Regions from separate parts of the Homo sapiens genome. Here region 1 is linked to region 2. Evidence: fine-mapped expression QTL. A gene starts in region 2. The other region holds a variant in brackets. All regions are shown on one strand. Distances are from middle to middle. Region 1 has its middle 37 kb from the start of RSPO4. Region 2 holds the start of RSPO4 (R-spondin 4).

Region 1 (5,373 bases), 37 kb after region 2:
TGACTTATTTATCTTTAGGTTTGTCGACCCCACTAGATCATGGGCTCCATGACCAGGGGGAGCTTTGCTTTTTCACCTCCATACACTCGGTGCCTGTGAGCACCTGGTACATCAGTAGATGCTCAATAAAGAGTTGTTGAGTGAACAAATGAATGAGCCAGTGATTGCGTGGATCCATGTTTTCTATGAGAAGGCAGAGCTCTGAGGACAGACAGAGGCCCAGTGTGCATGAGAAAGTCCTGCTGGCCCAGGCAGTGGCCTAAGAGCTGCCTACCATGGCGGTCACTGTTCTTGGGGAACCACAGATGTTTCCCCTCTAATCCCTCCATGGGGACCAGGGGGGCATGAGAATGGGAGAGAACACAAAGTCCCTTTATTCAGGGGAGTGGATTCCATCTCAAGACAAATTGTTACCTCCAAGGCCACCAGCCGCCCAGCCGGCCCATCACCATGGCCTCCCTCTTAAGGATGTGGGCACAGGCCCGGCCAGAGCTGAAATTGCCCTGGAAACTAGTCTCCCCTTTAATTAACAGGGAGGGCGACCAGGCCTGCTAACGGGGTGGGGTATGGAGTCGGGGTGGGGTCAAGTTCATAAAGTCCCCAAAGAATCAAGGCCTCCTTGTTTATTTTCCCGAAAATGTTCCCCATTACCCAGAACAGCATAGGGGCCAAGCAGGCCGCAGGCAGGGAAAAAGCTTTAACCTCCCCGCTGCTCAGCTCAGCACATCACTATTTGACTTGCATTTTAAAAATAATTACAAACTTAATGAAAAAATAACCTAACCCCCAAACAGGCCAGGGACTCATGGCCAGCATTGGCAGGAGCAAGCCCCTGGCAGCTGTGAGGATGAGATGCAAAGGGTATAGAGGAACCACTGGAAGACAGGGGACACCCTTTAGATGGACACTCCCTCTCTCTAGCGCCAGCTTTGGCTCCCTATTGCCCTTTGTGTCATGCCCAAATGTCTCAGCCCATGTCTTAGAGCCAGTTTTACTCAGGCCCTATGTGGAAGACACTGGAACCCAAAGAGGAAAGGAAGTTGCTCAGGTTGTGCATTGTGTGGGACCTGATGCAGGTAGTGAGGCTGGTTGGGATGGGTTCTCGGGGAAAGAGTGGAGGAAAGTGAGAATGTGTCTCTGTTACCATCTGAGCCCTGGCTGGGTATGGCCAACATGCCAGGTAAGCAGCCTTGGGAAGCAGGCACGATGATTATCCATCTTTAATATCCCAGGACTTGAGTCCAGGTCTGTCGGGCTTTTAGCCACCACACTAAGTGCTGTAAAAGGAGCTGGAGGTAGAAATGAAGTAACAACAATAATAATAATAAGCAGCTTTCATGGATTGTAGACTATGTGCCGTGCACTGTGCCAAGCTCTTTACCATCTCTTTTAATCTTTGCAATAACTTTATCTGGTAGGTAGTGTTATTGACCCATTTTACAAACGACGCCCAGAGCATTGGTTCAAGGTTGTGCAGCTGGGAAATGGCCTGTACTCTTCTACCCTGAGAATAATGCTCTACAGTGAGTCAGGGAGTCTTGTGAGGTCTCAAGAACAGGGACCTTGTCTGTCTTATTCACTTGTGTGTCCTCAGAGCCCAGAAGAGAGACTGGCATATAATAGATATTTAATATCTGTGTTGTGAATAAGAATGAACAAATGCACCTGGACCTAGAAGTAACTTCCGATGAACCATCCCAGTTCTCCCTTCCCCATTCCGGATTATCTTTACTTACCTGGAAGTGAACAAGATATTAAGGGGCTCCAAAAGAACTGAGAAATAGAACTTGGTTTGAAAGACAGTAGGGAGCCACAGCAGGTCCTTCAGGAATGGAGTTCCAAGCTAGGGGAGTGATGGTCTTCCTGTGTCTTTATGGATTCCAGGAGCTAGTCAAGGTCAATGAGCCTTTAGCCAGAAGGTCAAGTTATCCCCAGTGGTAAGTGTTGGGGGAAGAGGAGGGCACTTCTCAGGAGTTGAGGGTCCCAAACTTGTCATGCTCATTGGTTTTGTGGCTGAGAGTGGCAGGTTCAGGCTGGCCAGCCAGCCTCTTCAGCTTGCCCATGGTAAATCCCATGATCCTGGGTCAAGGACGCCCAAACATGGTATGTCCATAGCCAGCTGACAGAATTCGTATGTCATTGAATCTTTCAACAATGGATTCTTTGAAACTTACAACTC[T/G]GGGGCCTTTGAGGTCCATCTCAGATTCTGAGGCTGTAGAAACTGTTCATTTTAGAATAATGATAGGTACAAAACATTTACTGAGTACTTACTACTCCAGACATTGTTTACAAATATCAACGCCTTTAATCCTCACAACCACCCCAGAAGGTAGTAACAATGTGACCCCCCACTTCACAGATGTGAAGACGGAGGCACTGAAAGGTGTAACTTGCCCAGGGTCACTGGCCGCCTGGCTCTAAAGCACACAGCACTGCCTCACAGACACTTAAAGTCGTTGAGACTTACACTCTTCAAATTTTAGAATCGTAGAAAGTCACAAGGTCAGGATCTTCAAGCCACAGAGTCTTAAAATCATAGCACTTTAGAACCTGCCATCATTGACTCATCAAATTCTGCCGTCATAAAATCTGGGCATGTTATAATCCTGGAATTCCAGATTCTTGGGGACTTTTAAGTCAGAGAAGTTTAGATCCTGGGATATTAGGCTTGGATTACAGACCCTAGCCCAGTCCTCTCATATAGCACAGGGAAACTGAGGCCCACAGAAGTGACAGAAGTCCAAGAGAGGCAGAGCCTGGTGGATTCAGTGTCATGTTTGGAGGGAGAAATCGGAGTGAACAAAGAAAGCCCCTGGGCAGGCAGGAATCTGTTTGTGATTAGCAGTGGGTTTTAGTGTTGCCGAGGAATGTACCCAACGTTACCGTTACCCCCGCAGGTTGCTGCCTCCTTTCTTCCCCCTCAGATGCCCTCCTCAGAGCCCATCCTGGCCAGACTCAATATCCTGTTTCTACCACCAGCAAATTGAATTTTCAGAAGTTGGCCTCCTAACGAAGCCAGCTTAATACGTTGGAGGTTTTCTTTGCCTGCATTGCTATTTCTTGGTAGGATGCCTGCTCTTCAGGAGCCCAGAGAGGTTTTGCACACTCAAATCACAACGCCAGGAGGGATGAGGGACAGGAACTATGGGACAGGTGGCTGGGGGCTTAGATAGACCCAGAGGTGGGAATAGAAATGGCGTGTCTCAAGGGGGAGGTGACAGGTCCACAGGGACCTCCGTACTGCTCAGGCCACACCTGGGAATTTGGGGGCCTTCAGTCTTTCAGAAACATTAACCAAATGGGGTTTGTTTAGAGGAGGGATGGGGAGAGATGGGTGGGAATCCCATGCTCTGGGAGACCTTGAGCGTGGACTAGATGGAAAGAAGCATGAATTCTAAAGTTCAGCCTCTCAGCTACTGCCCCCTTGAAGACAGACATGGGTGGAGCCCTGGGGTATAGACCTAAGATTGAATGGTGGAAACTCCATGAAGATTTTGGTTTTATCAAAATCAGTGGTTCTCAGGCTGGGCATGGTGGCTCACACCTGTAATCCTGAGGCGGGCAGGTCACTTGAGATCAGGAGTTCAAGACCAGCCTGGCCAACATGGTGAAACCCCATCTCTACTAAAAATACAAAAATTAGCTGGGTGTGGCATCAGACACCTGTAGTCCCAGCTGCTCAGGAGGCTGAGGTAGGAGAATTGCATGAACATGGGAAGCAGAGGTTCCAGTGAGCCGAGATTGCACCACTGCACTCCAGCCTGGGCAATAGAGCAAGAGCCTGTCTAAAAAAAAAAAAAAAAAAAAAGCAATGGTTCTCAAAGTACAGTACAGTCCAGAATCTGTGGGGTTCCTGAGACCATTCCAGGGCATCCACATGGTCAAAACTATATTCACAACAACACTAAGACATTATTTGTTCTTCTAACCCTCAGTGGGGTTGTCCAAAGTTGATATGACATGTGATGCCACCATCACTCTGATAGCAATGAAAAAAATTAATGCAAAAACATTCATGATGAACAAAATACTAAAACTGTAAATAAAGAGAAGACTAATACTACTGATTTTTCCTTTCATCTCAGGCTTCAGTGTGAATTTTTCAAAATATTGCATTAAAATGTCCTAATTACTGATATTTTTGGCACACAAATTTTAAACCTGAGGCAAGTGCCTCGTTTAACTCACTCTAGTCCTGGCTGTGGATATAATCCACATCAACAGAAGCTTGTTGGGGTCCTCAATAATTTTTAAGGATATAAAGTGTGCTGAGATGAAAACATTTGAGGGTCACTGATAAAAGGGATAATGTTCCATCAGCTCAAACTATCCAACAATGGAGGGGATTATATTCCAAGGTACTGAGTTCCCATCACAAGGTGTGTACAAATGGGGGGATTAAAGGATTGGGTGTGGGGAAGAGGCCTAATGTGCAGCATCTCTTGCCCAGGTGCCTCCTGTGGTCCCACCTACCTGGCATCCAATAGATCTTCTCATTTTCCCACTTGAAAGCTTGCAATGGTACCCCACTGTGCTCTGAGCAAAAACCCACCTCTTCTCCATGGCCTACCAGGCTCTATGTGTCCTGGCCCTGTCTCCCACTCTTTTGCCCCTAGCTTGCTCTGCTATCCCCAACCTAGCCTCTTTCTATTTCTTCAGCATGCCAAACTCTTTCTTACCTAGGGATTTTGCACACGCTGTTCCCTCTGCCTGGAACATCTTCCTCTTCACTCTTCTCATGGCTGTTCCTTGTATCTTCTGAGTTTCAACTTGACTGTTGCCTCCAGGAAGGCTTCCCTGATCACCCTATAGTAAGTAGGATTTCTCTGACATCATCTCTCAACCTCTTTTTTGCTTCCTTCATGGAAGTCATCACTGCTTTTTTATATTTACTTGTTGGCATGGATGGTTCTCATCTATTCTCTCCATGAGACCATGAGCTCCTCCAGGGCAGGAAGCCTGACTGTTCAGACATGGGGCCTCAGCACCTGACCCAGCACCTGGCATGGAGGAGGCCCTTGAGAAGTGTTTGTTAAGCAAATAAACAAATCCTTTATGAATTAGTGAATGAATGAGTAAATGAATGAAAGATTAAACAGAAAAGGCCTCTGACTGCTGATGCTCAGGCACTCACCAGGAAACCCAAAGTAACACAGGTTGTTACTTTGATGAAACATCAGTAACCATGGCTGGATAGTGTGTGATGAAGTATTAAGCAGTAAGTGTTTGCCCACTACCCATCAGCGCTGATCAAGTTGGAGGAGAGGGAGACTGGCCTGGCTGCAGAAATCTTGGATGAGTTGGGGCTTGAACACAAGCCTTCAGGGCTTTGCCAAGGCAGGTTCCCCTGCCTAGTTTCTCTGAAGATTCACA
Region 2 (5,330 bases):
AGCTCTGGTCCCCACTGCAGTGCCAGTGGGAAACTGAGGCTATGGGCGGGGGACAGAGAAAATCCACTCACCCAAGGTCACATGATACAACTGGGTCAGGGGTGTGACTGAAATCCAAGGCTATCTCCATTGTACCCCAACAAATAAATGGAGCCCTAAGCCTCTTCTGAAGATGCTAGGCAGGTGTGTGTCCCAGAGGCAAGAGATCAGGTACTGGAGGAGGGATGCTGAGAGCCCCTCACCAAATTGCGGCCATATCCCTACCTCCTCACTGAGCTCCTGGGGAGGTGGTGGTGAGCTGTAGATGGGGCGGGGGGCAAAAGGGGCAGGATAGGAATTTTTCATTTTTCTTTAATTTTTTTGTCTTTTTTGAGCTGAGAAGCATCTTAAAGTCTTCTAAACCAGCTCCTTTTTGTTGTTGTTGTTGTTGTTGAGACAGAGTCTCACTCTGACACCCAGGCTGGAGTGCAGTGGCATGATCTCGGCTCACTGCAACCTCTGCCTCCTGGGTTCAAGCGACTCTCCTGCCTCAGCCTCCCAAGTAGCTGGAATTACAGGCGCCCGCCACCACACCCAGCTAATCATTGTATTTTTAGTAAAGACAGGGTTTCATCATGTTAGCCAGGCTGGTCTCAAACTCCTGATCTCAAATGATCCGCCTGCCTTGGCCTCCCAAAGTGCTGGTATTACAGGCGTGAGCCACCACACCTGGCCTAAACCAGCTCCTCTTTAGATGAGGAAACTGAGGCTCTGAGAAGGGAAGACCAGCACACCTCAGAAGATATCTTCTCAGCATTATGTCAGGCAGATTGGGATTCGAGCCTGCTTTGCTACTCACCTGCTGTGCGACCTTGGACAAGTCAGTTTCCTTCTCTGAACCTCAGTTCCCTCATCCAGAAAACAAGCATCTCTCCCCTCCCTCCACTAAGCCACTGTGAGTAGCCAAAGACACAGTGGACAGGAAATGAGAATGATTAATACTTACGAGCACCCATTAGGAGCCTGTGTCCTTAGCTACTCATCTTGCCCACAATCCTCCTTATGAGCAGGATACTTAAGTAAAAGATGGGTTGATGAAGGGAAAGGGGGTTTGTTTGATTTTTTGGTATTGTTTAGAATGGAGAAAGATCTCAGAGATCTTCTAAAGGACCCTCAGATGGGTAAAGTGAGGATTGGACAGGCAAAGTGACTTATCCAAAGTCACTCAGTTGGTAACTGGGGAAGCTGGGATTTGAACTCAGTTGACCTGGCTCCAGAGCCCATGCCCCTAACTACTAAACAAAGGCCATTCACAAAGGAGTGTCCCCATAGAGTCCCAAACTCACCCCAGCTCAGCTGAAAACCACACGCCTCTCTAGTCCCTTGTCCCACTGTCACAGCAAGAACTGGAGCCTCTTGGGCCACAGTCTCCCCAACCCCATCCAATCCCACCTCCCAATTCTCCCACAGCCTCTGTCTGCTTCCTGCTCCGTTCCAGGAGTGACTGTGTCGCTGTAGGGCTTTCACACAAATGGAAGGCCCCAGAGGGCAACCCATCCTCTCTCATTTTCCTTCCCCTTTATCCTTGCTCAGACCCGATGCCAGGGCTGGAAAGAGAGAAGACACCAGCTGGACAATTCAGCAGTTATTTAAACCAGTCTGAGCCTTGGAATCCCAGGCTTTATTAAAACTGGACGACCCCTATGTCATGAGCATATAGTTGGGATTTGATGAGCTAGGACATGAAAAACCCGTGGCATAGTGGCTGGCATTCGGCTGCTGATCTTAAGAGTGGCACCTGGAGGCCAAAGGGCTGCCCAGCTCAGGCAGGCGATTTGCTCACTTGCTCACCCGCTTACCCTTCTCTGAGGCACAGGCTCTACCAACTCCTGCTCTGCAGGGACAGCCTCCAACCCACCTTCTGAGGATGTTCTGACTCTCACAGCGAGGCTGTGGCATAGGACTCCCAGGTGAGAGCGCATGCGGCCCCTGGTACATTTATAATCTGAACCTTGGCTCATCTTCCTAGTGGCCTGAGAGGTGAAGATGGAAAAGCTGAGGCTCTCTGAGGGGCTGGACTTCTTCTAGGTCATCCCCTATTAGAATAAGTGAACCTGAACTCAGGTCTCAGGTCTGGCTGAACTCAACATAGGGGGGCCATGGAGGATCACTGCCCTCTGGGAGGTGACACCAGGAGTCAGGGTGAGTGATGAGGCTGGGACTGGGGCCTCTGGACGCCCAGCCCAAGGCTCTCTATGTCACTTCCTGGCCGAGCATGGATGCTTGGAATGGCTTCTACGCCACTGAGTCTGTCTCCTAGTCCCTGTGCCCCGCAGGCTGGCTCTTGAGTCTTCTGTCTCTGCACGAAGCCATCCTCCTTTCTGCTGACCATGCGGCTACTACAGAGAGCCCTGCTACCCTCTCCCTTCTGGGTGAGTCTCCTTGGCCCACCCTACTCAATGGCTCGCTCACTGGGTGCCCTGGAGCCTCAATCTCCCCATCTTAAGTGAGGTTGAGACTCGTCTGGAGGAGCGAAGGACCCAGGGCGCCAGGCACCAGGCAGATGCCCCCAGAGCCGCCGCCCCCGGTCCTCCGGCCCCCGGTCTGCCCCGCAGCGCCTGCCCGGCCGCCCTGCCCAGCCACCCCTTGTACCTTGCTTCTTCCTTCGGTTCAGGGCGAGCATGTCCACGGCGTGGGCGACGAGCAGGAGCAGGCAGAGTGGCGCCCGCATCTGGGCAGCCGGATCCGGGCTGGCGCTCCCCAGGCGGCCCGACGGCCCAAGGGCCCCACGTCCCGGCGGCGGCACGGCGGGCGCGGGGGCTGCTGTGGGCGCGCCGGGCGCATCCGCCAGGCGCGGGTCGGTCCGGCCGCCAGGTCTAGTGAGGGCGTTGGCGGAGCCGGGGCACTGCCCTGGCGGGGAGGAGCCGGCGCGGCGGGGGCGGCGCGTTAACCAGCTCGGGGCCCGGGAGCGCGCGCGGGGAGGGGGCGGGGGTCACCCGGGTCGGGGCCCTCGAGTTCGATCTGTCCCGCAGCCGGCGGTCTTGCGTCTTTCCCGCCCCCAGCACTGCCCCCGAGCACGTGCACGTGCCCACCGCCAGCCACAGGTACGCACGCGCGCGCAGGTACAGATGCGCGGACACCCGGAGACCCGTACGGTCCCCCGCGCCCTCTCAGCGCCTGTGATTTTCTTTCCCTCCCCCCAGTCCCCTTTCTCTGTCTGTTCCTCCTTCTGGCCCTTAAGGACAACTCCTTGTCTCCTGCTTTCTCGGTCTTTCCGCGGCCCGCGCTCCCCTGCTCTGCCCCCGACCCTGCCTGGCTGTTCCTGCATCCTTTACTCTTGCCGGCCGTCTCTCTCTCAGGCTCACTGTCTGTGTCCTCCTGGCTGGGCCTCTGGTTCTCCCTTTTCTCTGTCTCTCCCTTCAACCCCATCTCTCCCCTTCTCCCCTCCTGCAGGGTGGGGTGTTTGCGGGGCTCCTGCTGCCTGGCTTTCTCTTTTTCTCTCTACTCTGTCTCATTCTTTTAACAGAGGCCTGAGCCCCTTCTGGCCACTAACCCTGAATGTTTCCTGTGCAGTCTGCGGGGATCATCTACTCCGACTCAAAGTGACCAGCACCTCATAAATCCACTTGTGACAGGGCTGGGGACCTGGACTGTGTTTCCTCCAACCTTATCACCAGGACTGGGAGCAGCTGGTTCAAGTTTAACCCTTTCAGAGCAAAATTCCTCCTTCAACCCGACAGCATGCTCACCTCTCCTGTCACTATAACCACCAAAAACAACAACAATCATGCTAGCTATCATTTGTGAGGCATATATGGTGGGCATTGCTAAGAACTTGACATATACTAGAGTCTTCAAAACAACCCAATGGTTTGGGTTTGTATTCTGAGTAATTCCACTTTTCTGGGGAGCAAAGGGAAGCTCAGAGAGGCCAAGTGACTTGCCCAAGGCCACACAGCAGGTCAGTGGCCATTCTGGTCCAGTGCCTGCCCCTCTTAGCCACTTCTCAGGCACAGACTCATCAGAATGGAAGAGGCCTTGGAGGGAGGCCTAGAGAAACTTACAGTTGACACTCTCTTGCTGAACAATTGTCCTTCCTTTTTCTTTTCTTTTTTTTTTCTTTTTTTTGAGATGGGTTTTCACTCTGTCACCCAGGCTGGAGTGCAATGGCGCCATCTCGGCTCACTGCAACCTCTGCCTCCTGGGTTCAAGTGATTCTCCTGCCTCAGCCTCCCAAGTAGCTGGGATTACAGGCACCTGCCACCACACCCAGCTAATTTTTGTAGTTTTTAGTAGAGACGGGGTTTCACCATGTTGGCCAGGCTGGTCTTGAACTCCTGACCTCAAGTGATCCACCTGCCTCAGCCTCCCAAAGTGCTGGGACTACAGACGTGAGCCACCCCACCCAGCCTGTCCTCTTTTTTCCTACATGTGGAGCTTGCTCCAAAAGAAATGGAAGGTAAATGCTGGTATCTCCTCCAGCTCCTTCTCCCAGTGCAATGAGGGACACTTGAAGGCATGGCAGGGGCAGGGGAAACACACAGAGAGTGTGGCAGCTGAAGGTACAGCCCTGGCCTGGCCATTCTTTCTGTGGGGCCCCAAGAACGCTGGCAGACAACACGGAGAACTTGGTGGAATGTCAGAGACAGCCCACCCAAAGTGCTCCATTTCACAGATGAGGCCACTGAGCCTTCAGGACTGGGGGGTGCCTAGATTAGGCCACCCAGTGAGTCAAGGACTGAGCTGACATGGGCATCCAGGTGTCCCATTGTGGTCATCACCATGGCCTGCAAGGACCTCTTGTTCTGATATCTCTGATCTCAGTCTTTCCCACTGCCCCACCCCTCTCTCTTTAGCCTTAGAGATTTCAGCCCTTGAATATTTCACAAACACCACAGGCCTCTCACACCTCTGAGCTTTTCATGTTGTGGGGCCTCTCCATGGAATACCATCCTATATCCTACCTCCTTCTTCACTGCCTCTGCTCCAGGAAGCCTTCCCTGATTCTCAGGCCAGGTCCAGTGCCTCCTCTGGGCATCCACAATCTCTTTATCACAGCTCTGATCACATCAGGTGGTAACAATGGATGTGTCTGTTCTCCTTCCAAACTGCCATCTCTTTCAAGCCAGAGCCAGACACACAGCGGTGCTCAGAATGTTTGCATAATGAGTGCATAAATAAATGAATGGTGAATGAATGAATTCTCCAGATGCACAAGTCTCCCAGCCTGTACATGGAATGCAGGTACTTGGAGAAATGAGGTGACCCCAGAAGATCAAGCCTTAGGAAAGCGGAGGTCATTCCCTTCCCCACTACCCCCAGTACTGGAGTCTCCAAAGTCCAAAGGGGAC

What was found. PIP is the estimated chance that this variant, and not a neighbour inherited with it, causes the effect.
Region 1: its variant is the best candidate, but not a certain one, in a credible set for the expression of RSPO4 in sigmoid colon (GTEx, PIP 0.66).

The regions. Positions count from the first base shown.
Region 1 is chr20:1,036,310-1,041,682 of GRCh38, forward strand. No RefSeq gene overlaps it. Among named protein-coding and RNA genes, the nearest start is that of RSPO4, 37 kb to the left of the region's middle. The variant T/G (reference allele first, on the strand shown) is at 2,180.
Region 2 is chr20:999,455-1,004,784 of GRCh38, forward strand. It overlaps RSPO4 (R-spondin 4), which reads right to left and starts at 2,857. Exons shown (of 5, transcript NM_001029871.4): 1 at 2,632-2,857. The coding sequence starts at 2,710.